Linked DNA regions of Homo sapiens. The protein of the gene in region 2 purifies or fractionates together with the protein of the main gene of each other region. This does not show direct contact. Each region holds a gene or a part of one and is shown on either strand. Other genes may lie near its edges.

Evidence for each region. The genes of interacting proteins can lie anywhere in the genome.
Region 1: the proteins of CSE1L (region 2) and SMYD3 fractionate together in Homo sapiens (co-fractionation; one large-scale study listed by BioGRID). This does not show direct contact.

Annotation. Positions count from the first base shown.
Region 1 is NC_000001.11:245,748,847-245,752,063, forward strand, and holds the end of SMYD3 (histone-lysine N-methyltransferase SMYD3), read right to left. Parts: intron 819-3,217; coding exon 717-818; 3' UTR 501-716; downstream 1-500. UniProt on the Homo sapiens protein: Histone methyltransferase. Specifically methylates 'Lys-4' of histone H3, inducing di- and tri-methylation, but not monomethylation. Also methylates 'Lys-5' of histone H4.
Region 2 is NC_000020.11:49,087,812-49,091,311, reverse strand, and holds part of CSE1L (exportin-2), read right to left. Parts: intron 3,304-3,500; coding exon 3,206-3,303; intron 2,066-3,205; coding exon 1,915-2,065; intron 1,775-1,914; coding exon 1,566-1,774; intron 571-1,565; coding exon 473-570; intron 376-472; coding exon 290-375; intron 1-289. UniProt on the Homo sapiens protein: Export receptor for importin-alpha. Mediates importin-alpha re-export from the nucleus to the cytoplasm after import substrates (cargos) have been released into the nucleoplasm.

The DNA of each region.
Region 1 (3,217 bases), on a different chromosome or scaffold from region 2:
CACTCACATGCTGAACCACACATTTGGCTAATTACAGAAAAAATTTCAAGGAAAAAAAAAAGACATACACAAGGAGTTATAAAATGCTGATGAGAAAGGTTTACACAAAGAGCTGTGAGACATTCGAAAAACTGGTTTTTGGCATTAAGACTTCCTATCCTTTTCTAGTAATATCTAAAATGGCTTCTTCCTAGCATTTAGGATAAAACTTCTTGTGTTGGAGAAGTATTTGGAAGTAAATAACAAACACAAACATCATTTATCACAAAGAGCAAAAGATGACATCTCAAAATTCTGCTTCTTGCCAAAATGGACATTAAGTTTTTGCTTGGAAGCAAATGTGAAAATAGTGACTTTTATCTAATTATCCCTACATATATCCAAAGAGAAAGTTATAACTTATTTGTCATGCTTTTAATATGATTTTCTGTCTTGAATGTTGGTATTTTAAACATTAAAATCGCCAATGAGTAAGCAAATAAGACAATTACCAGATGGCATCCTCAACCAAATGTTTTGAATTTATTATAATCGTGCTTCTCTACAACTAATGATTCTTGTGGTTTGCAAACCATGTCTGCCTTTATTTACCTACACAAACACGGAACAGAATTTCCAATAGGAGAGGTTCACACAGCTAACAAAGCATAGAGTGTGTGACCTCAATAAGGCATTCAACAAAGACACACGCCGTATTTCCCTCTGACTGCGTTCCCTTAGGATGCTCTGATGTTGGCGTCGCATTCTTCTAAAAGTAGAATCAAATCTTCAATCAGGCTGTGTTCTCTGCCATGTGTCACTCTCATAATATCAAAAGCCTAAAGAGAAAGGACGGAAGAGAGATTAGACCCCAAAATAGGTGAGCTCAGGCCATTCCCCACCTTTACCCCATGATGCCAGGGGCCTGGTGAACCCCACAGGTTTACAGGGTGAACAGTCTTTAACAGGCTTACAGCACTGTGGTTCTCCCAGCTGGAAAGTCACATGAAAAGGGTGATTTCTGAATGTGGTATTTGGAAAGCAGACTCACTATTCGAGTCATGCTGGGGCCCAGTGACAATCGATGATCTTCAAAGACTGTCAGTGCACAGGTTTGGTGGGTAGTCACAGGGATAAGAAGAGTTACCAAAATGATTGAGTCATATGAAAGACCATGCTGCTACCACCTTAAAATTTTTCTTTATTGCACACTCCATTCAATTCTCATCTATATGCACCAGGATTATTATATACATGTATTCTCACATTTTTTTTCATATCATATTATAGCACTGGCATTTCAACAGTCCTCTCCTTCACTGCTCATATTTGGTCCATTATTAAATCTTGTCAACTCTTATCTTCAAAATATTTCTGAAATCTGTGTGGGCTTATGAGTACTTCAATAATAGAGTATAATAGAAGTAAAGCAACTGACTTGTGAGACTAGGTCAAAAAGGCCTCTGTGTTGTTTACTGGTCAGTATGTTTGCTCCCAGAACCAAGAGACTCCATGCTGCAAGGAAGCCCAAGCCACATAGAGGGAGGCCGTGTACAGGCACTCTGGCTGGCAGTCTTAGCCAAGCTCATCTTTCAAGTCATTCTAGACAAGGCACCAGACATGTACATAAATAAACCTTCAGACGATTCCAGCACCCAGCTGAAGACTGCCAGATCTGTCTTCCCAGATGAAACACCAGACATTGTAGAAAAGAAGAAAGCCATTCTTATGCTGTGTGCCAATTCCTGACACACAGCATTTGTGCAATAATTTTGCCGTTGTTTACTCCATTCAGTTTTGGGATGGTTATGGAACAACAAACAACCAGAGTATCCTTGAAAATATTTTTGTAATAAATAAGAGATAAGCAATATTATCCTGCCCTGCCCAAATGGGGGGGTGGGGTGGGGTGGGGTGGACTGGGGAGAAGGGAGGGACACCAGAACCACTGCATTTGATGTAAATGTGCCCAGGAGACTTGTAAAGATATGACTCTGGTGGCTGTTATGCACCCAAAGTACCTGGAAGTGGCACTGAGGCTCTCAGCCTTAGCTACACAGCAGGATCAACCAGGGAGCTTCAAAAGAGACACCGAGGGCCAGACCCTGCACATCAACAGCTGAAGCCTGCTCTCCAGGAATGAGGCCTAGGCCCCAGGAGATTCCAACATGTTCTCAAGGTTGAAAACAACTGATAGAGCAAACTCTCAACAAATAACATCAACTACTCATGATTCAGTGTTAATTTATAGCCAGAAGAATTACCATTTTAATTGTTGTATATAATGAATGCCATCATGCTTATAAACCATTATTTACTAAGCTACTCCTGGAAATTTAGATCACCTCCAATTGTTTATTAGGATATGATGCAGACCTTCCAGAATAGATTTTTTGCCTTTCTTGGATATTTAAGAGCAATTGCTAGGGGTGGAATTCTTGAGCATGAACATCTTGAAAACCACAGAGATTTCAGACCTTGGTGGTCATGTGGTGAGACGCCTGCATTTTGCAATTCTGCATGCAGGAAAACTTTCCATTCTACGTTGGAAAAACGCTGAAGCTTCGAGAAACAAAGCATTTCAGGGGGATGGGTAATTTCAACCTCTGTTTCTGGCTTCTTTTTTCACCTCTTGAATGTTCCCTTTAGGCTGGAAGGAAAACAGGCAGACAGAGGGGGTCTAGATTTGCTGCTGAGAGAGAGAGAAAGAGAGAGAAAGAGAGAGAGAGACAGAGAGACAGAGAGAAAGAGAAAGAGAGAGAGAGAGAAAGAGAGAGAGAGAAAGAGAGAGAGAAAAAGAGAGAGAGAGAGAAAGGGCCAGCGCCTCAGACCCTGGCCTCTCAGCCTGGAAGACAGCTCTGCTCTGAGTCCAGTTGTGACCCCGCACTGGCAGTCTGGCCCCTCACCCTGTGACACTCCAGCTGCAAAGCCCAGAAGGTGGCTGGAGCTGAGATGCTGGCGGTGGGAATTGACTTCCTATTCATGCGAGCAAGTCTGCTCTGTGGGTGCACAGCATCTGCCAGCAAATCCCTAGGCAGGGGGCTGTCCGGAGTGCAGGGGAGGAGTTGGGACCAGCCCCCACCTTGCAAGCAGCCCAGCTCTATGAGATTCCCCTGGGCAGAAGATTAAAAACAAATGTTTGATGGCATTCATGGAGCACATGCCTCGTGTTTTATTCTCTTTTCTCCACACTGCCCTGGATCCTCCGCTGCTCTGGACATCTTGAGGTCTGAGGCAG
Region 2 (3,500 bases):
CTGCGACTACAGGCACATGCCACCATGCCTGGCTAATTTTGTTGTACTTTTCGTAGGGACAGGGTTTCGCCATGTTGCCCAGGCTGGTCTTGAACTCCTGAGCTCAAGCGATCGGCCTCCCTTGGCCACCCAAAGTGCTGCGATTACAGGCATGAACCTCCACACGTGGCCAAGTATTTTTTGCATAAAGTTTAAAACGGATAAAAAATGTATCTGCAACCATAAAGTCTAAGGGTTTTAGCTACCTTCTTTCATTACTTCTGTAGAACATCCAGATGATTTTACTTACTCTTGATAAACTTGGTTGTTTTGGAATTCTGAAGTCTCTGGAATAGCAGAATGAAGATTTGTTTCCTATATTGGTCAACTGATTCACTAAAGAATTAAAAAAAATCAACAATATAAATTTAGGACTTTTCTGAGCACCTAACAAAATTTCTAAATAAATGCACAAAGTTCTAGTCATACTCACGGAGGCATGTGCTCTATTATACTGTTTAGAAGATAAAAACCTTGGTGGTCATTTGCTTTGGATGCAATCAGCTTCTGAAAGACACCTAGTAACCCAGGCTGTTAAGAAATGAGATCCAACAGAAAATGGTTAACAGGAATAATTATTCGAAAAGTTAAACATGATATATGTCTTAAAACAGAGTTCATACTGTAATAATCTATCCTTTTCTCTTTAATTATTTCTGAAACATATGGGGAACAATTCCTCCCGCGTAGCCATTAAAGTAATTTTTTTTTTCTTTGAGACGGAGTTTCACTCTTGTTGCCCAGGCTAGAGTGCAATGGGGCGATCTTGGCTCACTGCAACCTCTGCTTCCCAGGTTCAAGCGATTCTCCTGCCTCAGCCTTCTGAGTAGCTGGGATTACAGGCACGTGCCACCACACCCACCTAATTTTTATTTTTAGTAGAGACGGGGTTTCGCCATGTTGGCCAGGCTGGTCTTGAACTCCTGACCTCAGGTGATCTGCCCACCTCGGCCTCCCAAAGTGCTGAGATTACAGGTGTGAGCCACCACGCCCGACCAAAGTTAAGTTCTTAAAATCAACCTGTTTGGCTCTGTTTTTAAAATTTTCCATCATGGATATAAATAACTAAAGGATACAGAATTCTGATAAAACATACCATAACATTTTCTACTAATTATTTCCGTTATTATTATTATTATTTTTTTTAAGAGACAGGGTCTAGCTCTGTTGCCCAGGATGGAGTGCAATGGTGAGATCATGGCTCACTGCAGCCTTAAACTCCTGGGCTCAAGCGACCCTCTCACCTTAGCCTCCCAAGTAGATGGGACCACAGGCATGCTCCACTGTGTCCAACTAATTAAAAAGCTTTTTTTTCCTTTGTAGAGATAGATCTCACCACGTTGCCTAGGCTGGTCTTAAACTCCTCGGCTCAAGGGATCCTCCCACTAGAGGCTCCCAAAGTGGTGGGCTTGAGCCACTGCCCCCAGCCTTAAATTTATTTTAAATAAAAAAATTTCAAACATCTGCCATCCCCAGTTTCTCCAAGCTACTTTATAAAATTACAGTTATATCAAAACCTGACGCACAATTTTGTCAGCTGCAGCACTTGCTATTGTGTTTGAACCGCGTTCTAAGAATGCTTGAAGAAGCCTCACTAGAGCAGGAATATTTCCTGTTCTTTCCCAAAGCACTGGCTGAAGGAGATGAGGAAATAAGGCCATATAGGAAGACGGGATGTCATTTTTGTGTGTTTCCAGAAGCAAAGACATCACTTGAAAGACGTATGGAATAAATTCTGTTGATAAAAGTAAAAACAGAGCTGTGAGCTTCAGAAGGAATGACTGACACAAAAGGCCCACATCGCTTAGGTGGGCTGCATTTTATAGCCATGTTAATTTTATTCCATTACAAAGAAAATAATTTCCGTTAACTTACCTTGCACATCATTTTGTAAGATTTCAGTAAACACCAAAAACAAAGCCTCCTCAAAATTTACAACAGCAGCAGGGTTAGCTTTGCAAGTTATTCTTATGGATAAACATATTGCTTCAAACATGTAGTGATTAAAGTGAGGTTTGCTTGGGTTCTGAAATTAAAAAAAAAAAACCTAATTATGCTAATAATCCACACCTAACCTTTATAAAACACATTTAAAATAGAGGCCATCTTATTTTTTAAAAATCAAAATTAAGAAAAAAACACCAATTATACCCTAGTGCTTGTTCATTTGAATTTTTTTTTAAATGGCCCAAAGTCCACCATGAAAAAAATACTTCAGAGTTACAGAGTTGCTTATACAAACCTCAGATCCCAGAGCTGTAACTTGTCTTAAGCCCACGTGCCCTCGCAGAGAAGAAATACTAAGTCCTAGTAATGCCACTAGCCTTAACTTCTGTGGGCCTCAATGTCTATGTCTACTTACTGATAATCCCCCAAATGAGTAGTTTTTTATGTTCTTTTTAAGCAACAAAACCCCATTTTTCTTTAAACAAGTTCTTGGAAGGCTACTAGCATACAAATCTAACTCAATCAGAACATGAGATGGTAATACATATGGGAGGCGGAGACTTGGGTTCCCTCCCCGCTCCATCCCTCAAGGCCCTAAGTAGTCCAAAGACCCTTAGCCCTAACTCAGTTGAATAATAATCACTCTGTTCTCCAAAATCCCTCCAACACTTCCTATGAATTGATCTAATTCTCATAAGATCAAGAATAGCATCTAAAAAGGAATTCTGTCAGCCTTAAACGGATTTATTTTCTAAAATTTAGTGTTAATAAACATGAATCTAAGTATCTGTAAAATTTTGATCAGAGTGAACTTTCCTTTTGAGAAATAAGAGTAAGGAAGAAAAGACAACACAAAGGATTTTAATCATCATTTCATAGAAGTCCAGACAGCCTCTTTTATATCCATTTAGTGCAAAGCCTACTTAACTCCATTTAAGGTAATTTTGGATCATCTGCACTTTCTTTTTCTACAATAAACATGTTACTTTTGTAATGAGAATGAAAATGTATTCAAGCTTCTAGCACACACTTAAAGGTGACTGCTATTACGTCTCCAATCTAACAGCATGCCCACACTTTCAGAAAAGTCCATTAGTGGCTGGTCAGGAAGAATTCACAGACCTTCTCTAAAGCTTCACGTAATGCCAAAGAGTTCTGAGGCCCAAACAGTTTGGAGCAAATAAAAAAGGAACCCCACTTTCAAAATTGGCTCTATTACCTTACTAACAGCTAATAGCTTCTGTGTAAGCTGAGTGATGAGAGTAGGGATGTAGGGGATTATGGCTTCTTGTAGGAGAGAAAAACTTCTCATGATAGCTGTAAAATACAAAAACAGCAAAAACAAATAGAGTTTAGTTAAACTTCAGAATAAGAGAGCGACTGGGGGGAAAAAAGCGCACTAATTCATCAACTAAATTTTAAGATGCTTAGACAACCCCGAGATAGCTCTCTACATTTAAAAATAATCTAAATTTCCCTTCCTTTTAAAATTAGGACGGGTTGGCAACAAAATT